Homo sapiens: one gene and its partners. The protein of the gene in region 1 purifies or fractionates together with the protein of each later gene. This does not show direct contact. Each region holds a gene or a part of one and is shown in the gene's direction. Other genes may lie near its edges. The genes, in order: LYRM7, NDUFAB1 and UQCRFS1.

Region 1 (7,110 bases):
AGACCAACAGTTAAAGCTTTTATAGTCCACTTCCTGGTGATATGAGTTAGGCAAAATAAAATTGGCCGGGATCGCTGGCTCACACCTGTTATCCCGGCACTTTGGGAGGCTGAGGTGGGCAGATCACCTGAGGTCAGGAGTTTGAGACCAGCCCCCTGGCCAACATGGTGAAACCCCGTCTCTACTGAAAAATATAAAAATTAGCCAGGCATGGTGGTGGGCGCCTGTAATCCCAGCTACTCGGGAGGCTGAGGCAGGAGAATTGCTTGAACATGGGAGGCAGAGGTTGCAGTGAGCCGAGATCACAGCCACTGCACTCCAGCCTGGGCGACAGACAGAGCAAGGTTCTGTCTCAAAAAATAATAATAATGATAAATAAAATTGAAAAAGAGGTTGAATGCAGATTAAGCTAGCCCACAAAGCAGAGATAGAAAAAAGTATTACTTTGCTAAAAGGCACAATTCTGTCTACAGCCTAGAGTCTAATTGATTAAGAGTCCCATAATTTAGAGCCTTGGAGAGTTAAAAATGCTAATTGTTCTTATCCACTAAAACTAAAGCCAGTACAAGCAGGGAAATTCTGAGCTGTAACATGAAATAAGATCGATGCCTCAAGACTTTCTCATTCTTCCAGACAAAGATTAGATATATGATTCATTTACTGACTGGAACTTACTATTCTTCATTGCTTTAAGAAGTGGCCCCTAAGGTAAGGGTTAAGGAGATGGGCAGAACGTAGAGGCTGCTACCAAAGGATGACAGTCTTCATCCTTATTTTTCTGTGGCTACTTGTGCATGGAAATGACTGGAAACCAATTTGAAGCTTATAAAGTTTTTGAGTGAATTGTATTGCCAAGAAACTCCAGGCCTGGCTAGCTCTTTTCACCTCTTAAGGCCACCCCTGGGCCCCTAAACTCCTATCACCAGGAAGTAGACTATGAAAGCTTTTAAAGCCCCAAAGAAGGGCATCTTCCCCAGTATCTCCACCTTAGAACAATGAGGCTCAGCAGGACCTAATGGAAACACTAGCACTGTAACCAAACATCCTTGATTTCAGTCTAGATGAGACCTGAGGGGACAGGTAGTGAGTGGATGTATGCTACAGATGGAAAGAAGGATTTATATGCATTTTGCATAGCCAAAGGGGTTGTGCTTGTTGCCTCTCCAGTATCTATTCTCCTGTTCTTTTTTTTTTTTTTTTTTGGAGATAGAGTGTCCTTCTGTCGCTCAGGCTGGAGTGCAGTGGCACGATCTTGGCTCACTGCAACCTCAGCCTCCCGGGTTCAAGCGATTCTCATGCCTCACACCTCCTGAATAGCTGGGACTACCGCTCGGGCAATCCAACCACCTCGGCCTCCTAAAGTACTAGGAGTATAGGTGTGAACCACCGTGCTTGGCTTCTCCTGTTCTTTTTTACTAACTGAGAAATTGTGTTCAGGGTGCAATGTACCAAGCAAAAAAAAAGTTATTTTCCAGACCATGTGACACCTTTCTGGTCTATATAAACCGTGTCTATTCGGTGTTACTTCCAAGAAAGTCATTGTTTTCCTGTTTAAAAGGAGCAGGCTGAGCTGGCACTCTCCTTTTGCCCTTTTCTCTCTTCTTCCCATCTGGAGTGCAGATGTGATATGACAAGCAGCAGTGAAGACAAAACCACTCATGGAAGGTAGCAGAACAGGAAGAGAGAAAGAGCCTGGGTCCTTAGTATCACTAAGGACAAGCACTAGCCCAGAACTGCCTTAATCTGTATTTCTTTTTTTTTTTTTCCGAGATGGAGTCTAGCTCTGTCGCCCAGGCTGAAGTACAGTGGCACGATCTCGGCTCACTGCAACCTCTGCCTTTGGGTTCAAGCGATTCTCCTGCCTCAGCCTCCCTGGTAGCTGGTGCCTGCCACCACGCCCAGCTAATTTTTGTATTTTTAGTAGAGACAGGGTTTCACTGTGTTGGCCAGGCTGGTCTCGAACTCCTGACTTTGTGATCCGCCCACCTCGGCCTCCCAAAGTGCTGTGATTACAAGCATGAGCCACCATGCCTGTCCTTTAATCTGTATTTATTGATAATGTGAGAAAAATTAAATCTCTTACTTATTTAAACCAGCTTTTGGACTTTGGTTATTCAGAACTGAACATACTCTAAAGTGATATGGGTATATTTAACCATTTATTTTTCCATTCTCCCATAAAAGTCTTGTTCCACTTTTGTAACACATGACATTATACTATAATTTGTTGTTTATCTAGCTATCTTTTCCATTAGATTGTGAGTTTCTGGAAGCTGAAGAGACTATTATATATTCACCTTCATATCTTAATTTCTTGATGTAATGTCTAGCATGAAATAGGCACATATAGGTTTGATAAGTGAAACAAATTATTGCCATTGTTAACAAGTTAAAATGCACACTACAATTTATTCTCTGATGAAATCTCCATAGGTTTGGTAAAAGCAAGTGAGATATAAACAATGGTTAAATAATACTTATTTAACTGGTTTTCATTTCAGTAAGCCAAATTTATCATCTGGCTAATAAGAGCACTATTCTTAGTCAGACCAGTTCTTTCTTAATTAAGTGAAATATTCAGTTTGCCTTTTGGGTTGAATTTGTTTTAGTGTTGTCTTCTGTCTTTTTTTTTTTTTTTTTTTTTTGAGAGAGAGAGTCTGTCTCCCAGGCTGGAGTGCAGTAGCATAATTATTGCTCACTGTAATCTCAAACTCCTGGGCTCAAGCAATCCTCCTGCCTCAGCCTCTTGAGTAGCTAGGAATACAGGTGTGCACCACCATGCCTAGCTAATTTTTAAACAATTTTTTGTAGAGACAGAGTCTCGCTGTGTTTCCCAAGCTGGTCTCAAACTCCTGGCCTCAAGCAATCTTCCCACCTCAGCTTCCCAAAGTGCCAGAATTACAGGCATGAGCCGCTGCATCTGGCCACTGTGTGTGTGTGTGTGTGTGTGTGTGTGTGTGTGTGTGTAAATATATATATTTTTAAAACCTTTTTATTTTGAAATAATTCAGATTTACAAAAAAAGTGCAAAAGTTGAAGGGTATGAGAATTTCCTTTACCCAGATTCTACAAATGCTAACATTTTACCATATTTGCCTTATTGTGTTTCCCTCATTTTTTTTTCCTGAACTTTCTGAGAGTAAGTTGCAGACATAATGCCTATTTACCCCAAATGAACATTTTTAGAATTATGACAGCCCATTTGGGTCTAGATCTCCTGGAGAAATACCTTAGAGTATATTTTTTTAAGATACTTCAGTGTGTATTTCCTAAATATACAAGGACATTCTCTAATGTAACTGCAATATAATGACCAAAACCAGGGTATTAATATTGATGCAATGCTATCATTTAATCTTTCCATTTGTCCTAATAATGTATTTTATGGCAAAAGGAAAAAAAATTCCCTGTGGACCAGTATCCTATTGGGGATCACACATTGCATGTAGTCATCATGTCTCTTTAGGTATCCTTAATCTAGAGCAGTCCTTCAGTCTTTCTTCGTCTTTCATGTCCATGATGTTTTGAAAAGTATAGGCAGGTTATTTTGTAGAAGGTCGTGCAAGCATTTTTTGATTGATAGCTCATCTAGGTTCAGCTCTTCTGGAGAAAAGAAGAAGAAATCAATGTATCTCCTCAAAAATTTGGAATTTTTTTTTTTTGAGGTGGACTGCCACTGTGTCCCCCAGGCTGGAGTGCAGTGGCACCATCTCGGCTCACTCACTGCAACCTCCGCCTCCCATGTTCAAGCGATTCTTGTGCCTCATTCTCCTGAGTAGCTGGGATTACAGGCATGCACCACCACACCCAGCTGATTTTTTTTTTTTTTTTCAGTAGAGATGGGGTTTCACCATGTTAGTCAGGCTAGTTTCCAACTCTAGACCTCAAATGATCATCCCTCCTTAGCCTCCCAAAGTTCTAGGATTACAGCCGTGAGTCACCACACCCGGCCAAAAATTTGTATCTTAAGAGCTTTATCTTAACTCCAGCAAGATGTCTTACCTAGGACTCAACAGGTTTTTGTTGTTGTTTTATGATATTTCTCAATGTGGGCACTATTGGCATTTTTGACAGGACAGTTCTTCACTATGCCAGACTGTTCCACCCATTACAGAAGGTTTAGCATCCCTGGCTCCTGCCCACTAAATTCCAGTAGCATTCTCCAGTTGATATGACCACACAAAACACCCTCTTTTAAGAACAATTGTTATTTAAAATTTAGAATCTTTAAATTAGGAGACCAGTCTTGCTTTTCATATAGTAGATAGTATAAGCAAAATTTCCAGTTGTTTTCATTATCAGTAATTGGTAATTAAATGACCAATAATAGAAGTTTTAGCTGAATTCTCTTCAGTTATTTGATTTGCTATATTTAATGATAAAGGGTTAAGTGGATCATATATGTTTTTATATAATCTGAAATGAGAATGCTATTAATTCTAATTAGAGTCAAGGATGCCACCTTAGATATCAACTGAAATAAAATATCCCTGGAAGATTTATCTTAAAACTGGATATTTTACTATTTTAAATTTTAGGGGGAAATGAGTGTCCTTGCATTTAATTCTAATTTTAGTGATGTTAATTATTCTCTTTTTTTTTTTTCTTTCAGAACTGGTCCCTAGGAAAGACCTTCTTGTAGAAAATGTGCCATATTGTGATGCACCAACTCAGAAGCAATGAGTTTTCTAGAATACAACAAGTCTTTGTACTTTTTAACTTTAAAATCTACAACTCTGGCAAAAGTCCTGGAAATGCAGACATTTTCCCTGAACTGGCATATTGAAAATGAATGAATTACAGAATAGCTTCATATTTAAATTTCATGTTAAAAGGTCATTACTGAGAACTAAAGAACATAATTAAGTATTTCTAAAGGAAATTAGATAAGAAAACATTTCATTTTCATTGAAAATCAAATTTCATAAAGCAAAGTAAATGCTTAGGGAGATATATTCAATCTTTGACCTTGATGAGTATTTGATCTTACCATAGCTATTTGAGAATGTGGTGCTTTTACAAATTGGTGAGTTTTCCTGCCATGTGAAATGCAATTATTACATTTAAATTGTTAGATTAAAATGATATTTAGTCCTGAAAAATATTAAATTGGTCAAAAAAATCACAGTGTATGCCAGCTCTCTACAGAAAGTGGCCTTTGTTTTCTAAAGCACTGGGATTATTTCTGTAGCTAATATATAATTGTACAGTTTCTTTTTAGAGATAGAGAGTATCTCTGTGTTCTTATGAAGACATTTTTTATCAGTTTTCTGAAAATAGATGAATAAAATATTATAGTCACCTAGGGTCACTATGGAATAAAGAAATCCTAGTTTAAAGAGGAAATAGTGGCCCTTGATCAAACTATTTAATATGGCCTTAGTAGAATTAGCTGTATTTAGACAAAGTTAGACTTTAGTGTGAAATGTAATCGGTGGCTACATTCTCATCGTTTTAATTAATGAAACTTAAATGGCTTCTCTTCTTCCACATGTCCTGTCCTTGACAAGATGGGCAGTATCACAAAAGGTCCTGGCATTCTACCATCTAACACTAGGAACTGTAAAATACTGTTTAATATTCTTCTTGTTTCTCTTTTATCTGTGTATCTTTGCCATTCTATTTTCTCAGTGAATAGTATGTTTTCTCCCATTCACTGATAAATTCTCTCATTTGATGATGATACAGGGTTTTTAATTTTTGCAAGATTCTCAATGCAAGCATTGTTATGTATCTAGAAATTATACCTAGAGAAAAATGAAAGTCGTTTCAAATTTGAAATTTGCCCTTTTAAGAGAATGCTGAATGTCATCGCAGTATATAATCACTATATAAATGTGCTGACTTACAGTTATTTTAGTGTCTATATGACATATTTTGAGGAAAGTTGGCTGACGTTATTTAAATTTAATATATATTCTATATTTTAGTGTTATTGAATATTTTATCACTGAGCTTTTTTCTTTAACCTGAATTCCCTGTTCCATTTTTCATTCATATTAATTTAAATAACTCCAGATTTCTTTCTTATAGTCATTATTAGTAGCAGATGAGATTAATAATTCACATGTTTATTAAAGATAGTGGCTTAGAAATTTTAAGATATATTGATATAGGCCCGGGCGCTGTGGCTCACACCTGTAATCCCGCACTTTGGGAGGCTGAGGCGGGCAGATCACAAGGTCAGGAGTTCGAGACCAGCCTGGCCAATGTGGTGAAACCCCATCTCTACTAAAAACACAAAAATTAGCCAGGTATGGTGGCGGGCGCCTGTAGTCCCAGCTACTCGGGAGGCTGAGGCAGGAAAATCACTTGAACCCGGGAGGTGGAGGTTGCAGTGAACTGAGATTGTGCCACTGCACTCCAGCCTGGGGGACAGAGTGAGACTCTGTCTCAAAAAAAAAAAAGAAAAAAAAAGGAAAAAGGAAAAAAAAAAGATATATTGATACAGATAGGTAGATATGATATTGTACTTTCATGCCATAAGACTACACAATAAAGTTCCTGAAAGTTCCTGGCTGGGCGCAGTGGCTCACGCCTGTAATCCCAGCACTTTGGGAGGCCGAGGCAGGCAGATCACCTGAGGTCAGGAGTTCTAGACCAGCCTGACCAACATGGGGAAACCCTGTCTCTACTAAAAAAAATACAGAATTAGCCAGGTGTGGTGGCACATGTCTGTAATCCCAGCTACTCGGGAGACTGAGGCAGGAGAATTGCTTGAACCCAGGAGACGGAGGTTGCAGTGAGCCGAGATCGCACCATTGCACTCCAGCCTAGGCAACAAGAGTGAAACTCCGTCTCAAAAATAAATAAATAAATAAAGTTCCTGTGAAGTATATAAACATGTCAACAACAGGCTTGACTGTCACAAAATTCTGAAAGATGTCGCACTCTATTCTTATATAGCATATGCTAATTTATTTATTTATTTTTTGAGATTGAGTTCTGCTGTGTCACCCAGGTTGGAGTGCAGTGGCATGGTCATGGTCCACTAAAGCCTTGACCCCTGGGGCTCAGCAGTTATGCCAACTAAGCCTCCCAAATAGCTGAGACTAGAGGTATGCGCCACCACACCTAGCTATTTTTTTTATTTTTAGTAAGGACAAGGTC
Region 2 (7,408 bases), on another chromosome or scaffold:
AGAAGCAACGGATATTCTGGGCAGAAAGGACAGCCTGGCCAAAATGGTGAAACCCAGTCTCTACTAAAAATACAAAAATTAGCCGGGAGTGGTGGCAGGCGCCTATAGTCTCAGCTACTCGGGAGGTTGAGGCAGAGAATCGCTTGAACCCAGGAGGCAGAGGTTGCAGTGAGCCAAGATCGCACCATTGCACTCCAGCCTGGGCGACAGAGCGAGACTCTGTCTCAAACAATGACAAAAAGAAAAAGTGTAACTGTAGGGGTGGGTTGCCCCTCCACACCTGTGGGTGTTTCTCGTAAGGTGGAATGAGAGACTTAGGAAAGAAAAAGACACAGAGACAAAGTATAGAGAAAGAAATAAGGGGACCCGGGGAACCAGCGTTCAGCATATGGAGGATCCCGCCAGCCTCTGAGTTCCCTTAGTATTTATTTATCATTCATGGGTGTTTCTCGAAGAGGGGGATGTGTCAGGGTCACAAGACAATTGTGGGGAGAGGGTCAGCAGACAAACACGTGAACAAAGGTCTTTGCATCATAGACAATGTAAAGGATTAAGTGCTGTGCTTTTAGATATGCATACACATAAACATCTCAATGCTTTACAAAGCAGTATTGCTGCCCGCAGGTCCCACCTCCAGCCCTAAGGCGGTTTTTCCCTATCTCAGTAGATGGAGCATACAATCGGGTTTTATACCGAGACATTCCATTGCCCAGGGACAGGCAGGAGACAGATGCCTTCCTCTTGTCTCAACTGCAAGAGGCATTCCTTCCTCTTTTACTAATCCTCCTCAGCACAGACCCTTTACGGGTGTCGGGCTGGGGGACGGTCAGGTCTTTCCCTTCCCACGAGGCCATATTTCAGACTATCACATGGGGAGAAACCTTGGACAATACCTGGCTTTCCTAGGCAGAGGTCCCTGTGGCCTTCCGCAGTTTTTGTGTCCCTGGGTACTTGAGATTAGGGAGTAGTGATGACTCTTAAGGAGCATGCTGCCTTCAAGCATCTGTTTAACAAAGCACATCTTGCACCGCCCTTAATCCATTCAACTCTGAGTTGACACAGCACATGTTTCAGAGAGCACGGGGTTGGGGGTAAGGTCACAGAATCTCAAGGCAGAAGAATTTTTCTTAGTACATAACAAAATGGAGTCTCCTATGTCTACTTCTTTCTACACAGACACAGTAACAATCTGATCTCTCTTGCTTTTCCCCACATGTAACAGCTTGTCTATGAAAGGTAGGAGGAATGGTATTAGAGATCTATAAAGGGTCAGCGGAGGGTCCTCTTACTTTGTTTTTAGGCTAAGAGGAACTTTGATGTGTTTATGGGTTCAGGAGAAAGAGCCAGAAGAGAGACCTTTGAGATGTAGGGAAGAAGAGCTAACTGGTGGTATAAGGTCCCATTGGGAATAAGAGGGGATGAGACTACCGTGCAAATGGGCTGGCAGAGGGAGCGATCATGGTGGGTTGGTGGGATAGTTTGTGCTGGGAAGCTGACAGCTTTTATGCTTATCCATCCTTTGATGGGAATGTTACTGAAAAGCACCGGTGTTGTCTTTTAACTCTTCCTCATCTGCTAAGGATGTGATCTTAATATTGGGACTTTTACCCTACAGGCCATGTAGGCTGATATTTTGTCTTTATTTGTTTGCTGAAGGGAAAAGTAGCTCTCCCAAATTATTTAAATAAGAGATGATTTGTTATGTTTTACCAAAAGGATTAAATGTAACACTGAGGCCGGGTGCAGTGGCTCACGCCTGTAATCCCAGCACTTTGGGAGGCCGAGGCGGGCAGATCATGAGGTCAGGAGTTTGAGACCACCCTGGCTAACACGGTGAAACCCCATCTCTATAAATACATACATACATACATATATACATACATACGTGTAACACTGAAAGACTAGATAGGTCATGGGAAGAGATGGCCCCAATTGTGAACTTAGTAGGATTAGGTTCTTCCTAAGCTAAGAGCTACATTTTTTTGGGAAACAGAGTCTCACTCTGTTGCCCAGGCTGGAGTGTAGTGGTGTGATCATAGCTCACTGCAGCCTTGACCTCCTGGGCTCAATTGGTCCTCCCACCTCAGCTTCCCAAGCAGCTGGGACCACAGACATGCATCACCATGCCTGGCTAATTTTTTAAATTTTTTATGGAGACAAGGTCTCCCTGTGTTGCCTAGGTTGATCTCAAACTCCTGGGCTCAAGCGATCCACCTCCCTTGGCCTCCCAAAGTGCTGGGATTACGGAGGTGAGCCACTGAACCAGGCTTGCCTGTCTGGCTTGCTCACAGTTGCAGCCTCAACAATTAGTACGTAACAGATACTCAATTTTTTTTTGAGACTTTTTTGAGATGGAGCTTCACTCTTGTTGCCCAGGCTAGAGTGCAATGGCGCGATCTCAGCTCCCTGCAACCTCTACCTCCCGGGTTCAAGCAATTCTCCTGTCTCAGCTTCCTGCCTCCTGAGTAGCTGGGATTACAGTCACCTGCCACCACACCCAGCTAATTTTTGTATTTTTAGTAGAGACGGGGTTTCACCATGTTGTCCAGGTTGGTCTCAAACTCCTGACATCAGGTGATCCACCTGCCTCAGCCTCCCAAAATGCTGGGATTACAGGTTTGACCCACCATGCCTGGCCCCCAGACACTCGAGTTTTAAAGGAATGCTATAATAAATAGAAATTATTTTACAACAGTGGGATGAAACTATGTTTTTTTTGTTTTCGTTTTTTTTTTTTGAGATGGAGTCTTGCTCTTTTGCCAGCCTGGAGTGCAGTGGCGCAATCTCGGCTCACTGCAACCTCTGCCTCCCAAGTTCAAGCGATTCTCCTGCCTCAGCCTCCTGAGTATCTGGGACTACAGGCGCGCACCACCACACCCAACTAATTTTTGTATTTTTAGTAGAAATGGGGTTTCACCATGTTGACCAGGATTGTCTCGATCTCTTGACCTCGTGATCCACCCACCTTGGCCTCCCAAAGTGCTGGGATTACAGGTATGAGCCACCGCGCCTGGCAGCATACCATTACATTTTATTTTACTTGGATTTAACAAAAATAAAAAGAAATTGAGGTAAAACTGGTGACATTATTGGATCATTCATTCAGGCAGATTTCAGAATTTGGAGTCATTATCCCGTGTGTTTCCATTTCAGTCAATATCCTTTAGCTCCCTGCTTAGAAATAGGAATTAGCCTTCTTAAACTCCTCCCTCGCTTACCTATTTTTGTTAGCTATTGTAAGGAACATGGCTGTGCTTTGGTCAAGGATAGGCCAAGGTAAGATGTTTACATCCTGCGTGACTCAGCAAGTTTAGACAGAGGCGTATAACTCCACTTGTTATCACAGCCATGTAGGCATAACATGGGAAGGTCATCACTTGGCTCTAAGCCACTATTTTCTGTAAAAGGTATAATTGCCCTGCTGATACTGTACAGGCGTTCGTGCCCAGAGAAAGAGAGAGCCAGAGCTGTCAGTCTTTGCAGACAGACAGGGGGAGCCAGATCACAGCTGAGAGAGAGTTAAGCTGCTGACCCTGAAGGCAAGGGAGAGCCAGCCTCGCAGTTGTGTGGGGGAGCCATGGGACTAAGCAGCTGAGACAAGGCAGACAGTGTGAGAGAACTAGTGTAAGTAAGCTGCTGATGAGAGCTGCTGCTGAATAAAATCATCTTTCACCTGCCTACCGTCCCCTGAGTGTTCTTTCAGCTATCTGTTCATCCACCCACTCCCCTCAGACCTCGATATGGGCTGGAACCTGGCTGTGGGCATGACAGTTGGCATAGTCGTGGACCTGACAGCTATATTATACACTGTCAAGTTTTAAAACATGTATATTGTTTTAATCGTAATTCTCACATTTATTAGTCTTAGGTATTGAAATTGATTATTTTTTCACATTATTATATATATTTTTTTACCTATTCAATAAATGTTAATACTTGTGGAAGAATTGTGGAATCAAAACTTTGTCCTTTTTTTCTTTTAATCTTTTTTGTAATAGAGACGGAGTCTTGCCGTGTTGGCCAGGTTGGTCTTGAACTCCTGAGCTCAAACAGTCCTGCCACCTTGGCCTCCCAAAGTGCTAGGATTAAAGGCGTCAGCCACCGCACCCGGCCCCAAACGTTTAAACAGATGTATTTCAGAACTTTCAGATAAAAAATGAAAGTAGGTTTCTCGTGCCGTGTCGTTTAGGGAAAGACGGCGACGTCTGCACAGTTTAGTTGTGACACCAAGCAGTTGTTCGTCCCCGAACCTGGATGGGCTCCGAGGGCGCAGTGCCTCCAGGAGCCGCCAGGGGCCGCCACCGCCGGCGGTGCCCGACAGCGCTGCCGTGTGCGTCGCCTGCGCGCCGCCGGAAAGGAACCCTGGTCCGGAGGCGGCGGCGCAGTGCATCCTGGGTTGGCGTAGCCATGGCGTCTCGTGTCCTTTCAGCCTATGTCAGCCGCCTGCCCGCGGCCTTTGCGCCGCTGCCCCGGGTCCGGATGCTGGCCGTGGCCCGGCCTCTCAGCACCGCTCTCTGCTCCGCGGGGACCCAGACGAGGCTCGGGACTTTGCAGCCGGCCTTAGTGCTCGCGCAGGTGACTCGTGGTGACTTTGCTGCCGCTTGGCAAGGGTCAGGGATTGGGCCCGGTGGGGGTGGGGGCCGGGCATCCGGGGCGCGCCAGCTGCAGGCAGGGGTGACCCGGGGGGCAGCCGGCTCGCTCCGCAGCCCCGCTGCCTAAAGGTGTTTAGTTGACCCCTGACGGGAGGCCGGGTGACCTCGTAATAACGAGCAAGAGCACTGACTCGAGTCCAGCACTGCTGGGCTGCCGCTTACCGAAACTTTGGACAAGTCTCCTAGCCTGGCTCACACTCACCTGCAAAATTGGGATCCTGGTCTCTACCTTGCGGAGTAGCAATGAGGATTAGATGAGTTAATGCGGCTAGAGCACCTCGTACGGTCTCAAAATAGCGGTCACCGTATTGTAGTGAAAGCAGCATGCAAAGAGGCAGCCACACTGGCCTACAGCCTTCTCCAGAGCGGTTTTCTCTCTGCAGTTCTGTCCTTACTCTTCCCTGCAGCACCTTCTGCCTGTGTCCAGGACTCCTGGAAGTAATTCTAGGAAACAAGCCAAGTGACCTTTGACCAATAAGGATTTGAATTGCGCGGGTCCACTTATATGCGGATTTTTTTTCAACCAAACGCGACCAGTATTTACGGGATGTGCCGCCCCGCGTATAAGGAGGGCAGGCTCTTCCTATAAGCGGATTCTGCAAGGCTGACTGCGGGACGTGAGTGTGCGGGGATTTGGGTATAGTCGGGGGTCCTGGAACCAATCTGCGCAAATACCAAGGAACGACTGTACCTGTAGTATATAGCTTGAGCTGATGAAATCTGCGTGAGGCTGAAACGCCGGGAGGCAGTGATTTCGGTGTTGTTGTTGTTGTTTTTGAGACAGAGTCTCGCTCTGTCACCCAGGCTGTAATGCAGTGGCGTGATCTCAGCTCACTGCAACCTCCGGCTAACGGCAACCTCCGCCTCTCAGGTTCAAGCAATTCTCCTCCCTCAGCCCCCCCGAGTATTTGGGACTACAGGCGCCCGCCACCATGCCCGGCTAAGTTTTGTATTTTTAGTGGAGACGGGGTTTCATCATATTGGCCAGGTTGGTCTTGAACTCCCGACCTCGCAATCCACCCGCCTCGGCCTCCCAAAGTGCTGGGATTACAGGCGTGAACCACCGCGCCCTGCCTTTTTTTTGTTGTTTTCTAAGTTCTCCAGATGACTCTGAAGTGCAGTTGGGAATAAAAATAACCGTCTTAAGGTAGGATAGACTCCCAAGGTCAAGTTATGAAACCCCTTTTCAAAGTCATAGACTTCAGGTAATAGTGGTTTCAACCTTGACTGCATGTTAGTGTGAAAAATAAGTGTGTCTGGCCAGGCGTGGTGGCTCACGCCTGTAATCCCAGCACTTTGGGAGGCCGAGGCGGGCGAATCGCTTGAGCCCAGGAGTTTGAGACCCTCCTAGGCAACATGGTGGAACCCCGTCTCTACAAAAAATACAGAAATTAGGCCGGGCGCGGTGGCTTATGCCTGTAATCCCAGCACTTTGGGATGCCGAGGCGGGCGGATCACGAGGTCAGGCGATCGAGACCATTCTGGCTAACACAGTGAAACCCCGTCTCTACTAAACATACAAAAAATTATCCGGGCGTGGTGGCACGCGCCTGTAGTCCCAGCTACTCAGGAGGCTGAGGTGGGAGGATCGATTGAACCCAGGAGGCAGAGGTTTTAGGGAGCTGAGATGATGCCACTGCACTCCAGTCTGGGAGGCAGACCGTCTTAAATAAGCCAGCCAGCCCGTGCCAGATCGACAGAATCTAGAAGTGAGTACTAGGCGACTATTTTTAGAAGTCATCAAGTGTTTCTTTTGTGAAGCCAGTGTTGCTGTTCACTGACAGTGTAATGGATTCATTCATTGGGCACTGCCCTGTTGGCTGTATCAAAAGGTGAAAAGTGTCACCTTGAAATTAAGGGTTAAAGGCCAGGCGCGATGGCTCACGCCTGTAATCCCAGCAGTTTGGGAGGCCGAGACGGGCGGATCACGAGGTCAGGAGATGGAGACCATCCTGGCTAACACGGTGAAACCCCGTCTCTACTAAAAATACAAAATAATTAGCCGGGCGTGGTGGCGGGCGCCTGTAGTCCCAGCTACTCGGGAGGCTGAGGCAGGAGAATGGCATGAACCCGGGAGGCAGAGCTTTCAGTGAGCCGAGATCGTGCCACTGCACTCCAGCCTGGGCGACAGAGCCAGACTCCATCTCAATAAATAAATAAATAAATAAATAAATAAATAAATAAATAAATAAATAAGGGTTAAAAAGGCAGTAGTTAGAATTGATGAGTGTCTGGTTCCTAAGATTGATTTCAACATTGGGCTAAAATGTGAAGTGACTGTCTTTGTTCTTACAGCATTGATTCTCAGTTGATTGGACATACAGATCACTTAGGCTGGAATACAGATTCTGATTCAGTTCTGGGAAGGGGCCAGAGAGTTTCCACCTCCAGTGGGCTTCCAGAAGATCCTGCTGCGGGTGTTCCTTGGACCATGCTTTGAATGGCAAGGAGCTCAGAAATGTTCCACTATGGCGGCTTGGCTTGCATATATAGCAGAGGAACCATTTTATTTATATTTACAAAGTGGTTTTGACTAAGTTCATTCAAAGATATTGAGGGCCAGCTGTGTGCCAGGACTCATGCTAGCTGTTGAGAGATACAGAGATGGATACAAAAGGAAGACATTAGCTTACATCTTCATTGAACGCTTTGCAGCCCTTATGTCCAACTTGCTGGCTCCTTCTCTGCTGCTGTCTTCTTCCCTAGGCTGTTGTGACACTGTTCTCCCTTGGTTGGTTTGTCCTCCTACCTTGTTG
Region 3 (7,103 bases), on another chromosome or scaffold:
AGTGTCTAGACTACAACTCACACTTGGAACTAGGAGATTCCCCTGCATATCAGTGTTCTGCTACTCTCCGGAATCAATCGATCATGCTTGTGCAAGGAATTATATAAACCTGAGGTCCCAAACTCGAGGCCTCAGCAGATGGGCAGGTAATGTAACTGAATGGACACAGTGGGAAAGGACCCAGACCACCAAGCAGGTACCTACCCTGGCTGACAGCACCCCACCGTCTTTCTCTTTGTTGAGGACATGGGCCTCGAGTGGCTTAAAATAATGCAATTTTATTATTTTACAATTCTGGAGGTCTGAAGCCTAACACAGGTCTGTAGGGCTGCACTTCTTCTGGAGACTCTAAGGGAGAAGGTTTCCTTTCCATTTCCAGCTCTATCTCTGCCTGCAGGTCCCTCCTCTGGCCCCACCCTCAAAGCCAGCAATGTGGCATTTCTGTCCTCTCACCTCTTGCTTCCCTCTTCTAAGACCCTATGAACATGCCGCACCCACCCGGACACTGCAGGAAGACTCTCTGATATGGTTTGGCTCTGTGTCCCCACCCAGATCTCACCTTGAATTGTTACAATCCCCTTGAATTGTAACAAGGGGGGGACCAGGTGGAGGTGATGGATCATGGGGGCGGTTTCCCCCATGCTGTTCTCATGACAGTGAGTTCTCATGAGATCTGACAGTTTTATAAGGGGTTCCCCCTTCGCTCTGCTCTTATTTTCTCTCCTGCCACCCTGTGAAGAGGTGCCTCCTACCATGATTGTAAATTTCCTGAGGGCGCCCCCCCAACCAGCCGTGCTGAGCTGTAAGTGAATTAAACCTCTTTTCTTTGTAAATTACCCAGTCTCAGGTATTTCTTCATAGCCGCATGACAACAGACTAATACACTCTCCCTATCTCAATCTCCAATCACAGCTGCAACATTCCTTTGCTGTGTAAAGTAACATATTCCCAGGTTCCAGGGATTAGGCTGTGGACATTTTTGTGGGGAGGCATTATTCCATCTACCACAGTTTGTATGTGGGAGTACTCACAATTTGTAAATGCTAGCAAATAATTCTGAGGTTCATAGCACTGTGTATGCCAGATCACCAGGTGTCTCTGGGCAGAAATGAGTGGGGAGAGAATGAATCTCCAGTCCATGACTTCCGACCTCTGATTTAAACAGTGTTTGTTAAAAGGAAGGCTTGGTGTCATGCTTCCTCCTGCCTTGTTCATACATACACATTGCGTGTCAGACTTCCAGGGAACTGAGAAGCTTACCAAGCATTTATGTTCCCAGGCCTGTGGCTATTTTTTTCCCTCAGTTTACAAAACTAACAATGTTTATTAAGCTCTCATTGTATGCCAGTGTGCTAAATATCTCACATGGATTCTTTCTTTTAATTTGCACAGCAATGTCATTTTTATCCCTGTTTTACAAATAAGAAATCTGACACTCAGTAACGTTGCCCGATGTCACACAGGTAGTAAGGGGCAGAGCTGCCATGAAGGCCAGGCTGTCTGGCTCCAGAGTGAGCTGATACATGAAAGCTAAAACCCCCTTCAGTTAAATAACAACCACTGAGGGGTTGCAGTGGTGTGTACCTGTAGTCCCAGCTACTCTGGAGGCTAAGGGAGGAGGACTGCTTCAGGCCAGGAGTTTGAGACCAGCCTGGGCAACACAGCAAGACCCCCATCTACCAAGTGGAACCCAGGTTGGCCTACAGAAGTCCAAGTTCCAGTATGCCTGCCACTCCTGGACATTGGCCTCCTTCTTCCACGAGAAGACAGCTGTTCGGCCATACAGTTACCCATCTCTCTGCTGCAACGCTGGACTCGAACACCACTACCAGATGCGTTCTTATCAATGTGTCTTTGGGCATGTCATTTGTCTTCTCTGAGTCTTAGTTTCTTCATCTAGAAAATAGAAAGTTATTATTATTGCAGATATTTACATACTGTGTGCCAGGCACAGTTCTAGGCATTTTACATGTATTAATCCATCTCATCCTTAAAATAACTCTCTAGGGTAGATCCTGTTATTATCTCTGTTTTACAAGAGAAAGACGGAGGCACACACAGAGATTAAATAACTTGCCCTAGGGCACAGCTAGTGAGTGGTGAAACTAAAATTGAACCCAGGAGGTCTGGAGATAATTCCTATTCTGTTCACCCAACTGGGACATTGTGAAGGTTTTGTGAAGGATCATTCATTCATTCATTCATTTTTCATTTCCTTACCAACTCAGAGGGAATTGTGATATTATTTCTTGTGAAGCACTCAAACCATGCATGCTGTGTGACAACTTCTCTGGAAATGTCTTTTATCCTAAGGTTGTTGCCAAGGGAGAGCACTGAGCCAGCTGTGTGATGAGCCTGGCTAGGGTGGCCCCTGAGGAGGCAGCCTCCAATCTTGAGAGTACAATATAGTCCCTTGGGCTATAAGGCTGGTCAAAGCCTAGGCCCTAAGGGGAGTCATAGGAAGGTCAAAGGGGAAACCTGTCAGTACACTTTGGACCTGGCATGAGGAATAACAACGAGTCAGCAAGGATCAAGGGAAGGCTTCTTAGAGGAGGTGGCATCTCAGATAAAAACACCACTAGCAAATCCTCACTTGGTGCTGCCTGTGTGCTGGGCCTGCTTGTAGATGCTTTACACGTTTTAGTTCATTTACTCCTCCCAGTAACTTTACAACACACATGGCATCATTACTGCCCCCATTTGGCAGGTGAGGAAACTGAGGCACAGAGAGGTGAGGGAACTTGCCCAGATCACAGAGCCCATGCACAGCACAGAGCCAATTCTGTGCACTGCTTATATTAACATTTACTTAATATTTAAATTATTTTTGACCTAAATGAAAAACTTTATCTCAGTATAGTACAGAATAGAAAACCAGTATGGATAGAAAATCAATACTATGAACCATATAATGAAATCACTCTAGACTCAGTTCTCTGCTAAGAGCTTCTAACTCAAGATCTTTTCTGTTAAAAGTGGGAGATAAGTGTAGAGAGGAATTAAAGATATATTAGGATCAAACTGAGGCCAAGTGAATTTGCTCATGCCTATAATCCCAGTACTTTGGGAGGGGGAGACAGGACTCCTTGAGGCCAGAAGTTCGAGACTGGAGTGGGCAATATAGTGAGACCTCATCTCTACTTTTTTTTTTTTTTAATTAAAGATGTATTAGCACCAAACTGAGACTTTCTCATTGGTGCAATCAGGATTGAAAAACAAAACAAAAGAAAACAAAACTTTCTCACTATGTGATGGAACATGAATGAGCGAGCTCTGTGCATCCTCTAAAATTCTAAAATCCTACTTTGGGAAACAGTGGTGGCACTGAAGAGCATAGACTCAGGAGACAGATTACCCTGCTTCACATCTTGCTGGCTATCCAGTTCCTGGAAAAGAATCTCTCTAAACCTCGGTTTCTTCATGGGTAAAATGCTGATAGTAATAGCTCTGACTTCATAGAGACCTTGATAACAAATGAAAGAACGTAGGTATAATAAAACGCAAAACCAAATACACAGTGAATACTTAATAAACATAATCCATTAGCATTATCGAGCTTTGCACAGATGCCTCTGGCCTTTTTGTTGTTGTTGTTGTTAGATGAAGATAATAAAAATCATCATAGTAAACACATAGCGATTACTATGTGCTGGACTTCGTCGTAGTTGAGATATATTACCATCCTAAGTTAAACTATAATCGTTTATTGTTATCTCTAGGTCTTCCTAGATGAAATTTTTACCCTAAAGGATCGTAAAGTCGGCCCACCGGACGTCAGTGGGGTCCCCTGTTCAGCCCTCTCGTTCTTCTGGGGATCTCTCGGGACACTGACGAGGTGGCACCGGGACCTACAGGTGGGCCGCAAGCCCCGCCCCCAGCGACGGCTTGTAGCCCCGTCCCCCGACGCAGCGCCTCTCCAAGTTTGCCCCGCCCTGCAGGACTGCAGAATTTCCTTTCCGGCGGCGCGCTGTCGTCACGCGTCCCGCGCCTCCTCGCGCCTGCGCCGTGGTTGGAAGGTCGTCCCTGTGACCGGCTTGGCGGTTGGAGCGGCTGTCGCCATGTTGTCGGTAGCATCCCGCTCAGGCCCGTTCGCGCCCGTCCTGTCGGCCACGTCCCGCGGGGTGGCGGGCGCGCTGCGGCCCTTGGTGCAGGCCACGGTGCCCGCCACCCCGGAGCAGCCTGTGTTGGACCTGAAGCGGCCCTTCCTCAGCCGGGAGTCGCTGAGCGGCCAGGCCGTGCGCCGGCCTTTGGTCGCCTCCGTGGGCCTCAATGGTGAGCCGGGGCGAGGGCCGCGAGCAGGGCTGGGGGTCTCTCGGTGCCCGCTCCTCCGGCCCCCAGCAGGGAGCGGCCGCGGGCGCGCGAGCGGAGCCTGAATCAGGTCGGGCTGGGCGGCCTCCGCAACTCTGGGCCTGGCCCCCGGGCTCGGGGCGTCTTTCTGGTGGCCGGCCTGGACTCGCGTCCGCCGGCTTCGCCTGGTTCCTCCTCGGCCGAGTTCACGAGCTCTGTAGTCCCGCTGTTCCAGCCACCTCTGAGGGGTTTTGTTGCTTGCAGGTCGTTTGACCTTGGGCGAGTTTCTAAACGTACTTCCTGTGAAATGGATTCATATCTTTATCAATTTTGTAGGGGTGTCGTGAGGCTTAGGTGGAGGAATTCTACGTAAAGCCGTTAGCACAGTTTGGGCACTTACATGCTTAAGAAATGGAAACTTACTAATATTTGGGAAGTTGGTCTTCTCACCACTACCGATCCCTTCATGTCCTTCCCCTTCATCACCCCCCCACCAAAAAAAAAACAAAAAAAACATACACAAGGTCAGTTACAGTGTAGTGTCACAACATAATCAGTCGTCAAGGACGGGCAGAGATTGACGACATTTACATTTTACAGATGAGAAAACAGACGAGGTAGAATGACTCGCACCAGGATCCGTGGTGTGGACATGTGGTAGCAGGGATTTGACAAGACGAATTGTCGTAGCCACTGAGCTCTTCGCAGGGGCTATTCCACACCCTCTGTCCTTAGATCCCCGTTTATCTTCTTTGCCTCGCCTTCCATCTTTACTTGGCCCTGTATCGGAGATAGAGAAATGGCAGCCTGTGGGCAGTGTGTCTGCAGGCTGTGTAGTTTTCAAAAAAACTGGGAAGACTAATGGCATCTCTTAAAATGCTGGAAGCCGGTAATACTGGGATCTAGTTTCTACTTGGGAAAATTCCATAGTGTGCTGTGTAGTGGCCGCCCCCGCAGTTGGAGCAAGTGGTCTTCTCCAGTTTGTCACAGTCTTTACCAGGTCTGCGTGTTTCATTCTGTTACCAGCCTGGCTCCACTGATAGCTGTTTGTGACTCTTCCCCTACACGCTAACCAAATTGCCCGCCACTTTTCTTTTTACTCTGTCTTCATTCACCCTGGGCTCTGCACTTTCTTCATGGTCCTTCCACTAAGTTGCTACATGTCCATATGTTTTCCTTACCCATCTTTTCAATCTCAGTTAAGGATCAGGTGAATAAAGTTTTTATTTGCTGATTTGTCTGTCTCTGTAGCACATACACTTTACACTCTGTATTGTGTTTATTGGTAACTCCTCCACCCTTGGGCTTAAGGGCATAGAGAAGGTAATATCTTCTTTATTTTTCTATCTTTCACAACGTCGGATTTTGTATACAGTTAGTGCAAAGTATTTGTGAATGAATATTTGTTAAGGAGCATCAGTGGGTTTTGAAGAAACTGTCCATGGCAGGTGTAGAGTACCCTAGCCCATCCTTGGGACCTGGAGGTGAGAAGGAAGGAAGGAGAACATTTCAATAGCAAAAGAAAAGCATCTTTGGAATTCGTCGTGTTGCTAAAGTTTCTTCAAAAAATTGGAGGCTTACATTTCTCTGATGGCCAGTGATGCTGAGCATTTTTTCATGTGTTTTTTGGCTGCATAAATGTCTTCTTTTGAGAAGTGTCTGTTCATGTCCTTCGCCCACTTTTTGATGGGGTTGTTTGTTTTTTTCTTGTAAATTTGTTTGAGTTCATTGTAGATTCTGGATATTAGCCCTTTGTCAGATGAGTAGGTTGCAAAAATTTTCTCCCAATTTTTAGGTTGCCTGTAAACCACAATGAGATACCATCTCACACCAGTTAGAATGGCAGTCATTAAAAAGTCAGGAAACAACAGGTGCTGGAGAGGATGTGGAGAAATAGGAACACTTTTACACTGTTGGTGGGACTGTAAACTAGTTCAACCATTGTGGAAGTCAGTGTGGAGATTCCTCAGGGATCTAGAACTAGAAATACCATTTGACCCAGCCATCCCATTACTGGGTATATACCCAAAAGACTATAAATCATGCTGCTATAAAGACACATTTACATGTATGTTTATTGGGGCACTATTCACAATAGCAAAGACTTGGAACCAATCCAAATGTCCAACAATGATAGACCGGATTAAGAAAATGTGGCACATATACACCGTGGAATACTATGCAGCCATAAAAAATGATGAGTTCATGTCCTTTGTAGGGACATGGATGAAATTGGAAATCATCATTCTAAGTAAACTGTCGCAAGGACAAAAAACAAACACTGCATGTTCTCACTCATAGGTGGGAATTGAACAATGAGAACACATGGACACAGGAAGGGGAACATCACACTCTGGGGACTGTTGTGGGGTGGGGGGAGGGGGAGGGATAGCATTGGGAGATATACCTAATGCTAAATGATGAGTCAATGGGTGCAGCACACCAGCATGGCACATGTATACATATGTAACTAACCTGCACATTGTGCACATGTACCCTAAAACTTAAAGTATAATAAAAAAAAAATTGGAGGTTTACCTGACTTAGAGAAACTATTTTTAGAAACAGGCAAATAATGTAGAACCATAAGGCAAAAACCTTTTCTGTAATCATTTCAGCCTGTAATTTAAGTTCACATTATAGTCTGTCTAGATGGTTCATGGCAGGATGGCTTATGGGAGTGGAGGGGTTGGATCTGGAGAAGATTCTTGAATTGGAGAGGAAGGTTGTACTATTTTCATGCAGATTTCCAAGGCGCATTGGAGCTCAACCTTAAAATAAAACTTGTTTTGTTAAAATTCCTTAAATTTTCTCCT

The links.
Region 2: the proteins of LYRM7 (region 1) and NDUFAB1 purify together in Homo sapiens (affinity purification with mass spectrometry; 4 studies listed by BioGRID and IntAct, with this or other methods). This does not show direct contact.
Region 3: the proteins of LYRM7 (region 1) and UQCRFS1 purify together in Homo sapiens (co-immunoprecipitation; 5 studies listed by BioGRID and IntAct, with this or other methods). This does not show direct contact.

The regions. Positions count from the first base shown.
Region 1 is NC_000005.10:131,194,919-131,202,028, forward strand, and holds part of LYRM7 (complex III assembly factor LYRM7), read left to right. Parts: intron 1-4,612; coding exon 4,613-4,683; 3' UTR 4,684-7,110.
Region 2 is NC_000016.10:23,593,290-23,600,697, reverse strand, and holds the start of NDUFAB1 (acyl carrier protein, mitochondrial precursor), read left to right. Parts: upstream 1-4,381; 5' UTR 4,382-4,407; coding exon 4,408-4,575; coding exon of another isoform or gene 4,576-4,610; intron 4,611-7,408. UniProt on the Homo sapiens protein: Carrier of the growing fatty acid chain in fatty acid biosynthesis.
Region 3 is NC_000019.10:29,210,074-29,217,176, reverse strand, and holds the start of UQCRFS1 (cytochrome b-c1 complex subunit Rieske, mitochondrial), read left to right. Parts: upstream 1-4,025; 5' UTR 4,026-4,058; coding exon 4,059-4,272; intron 4,273-7,103.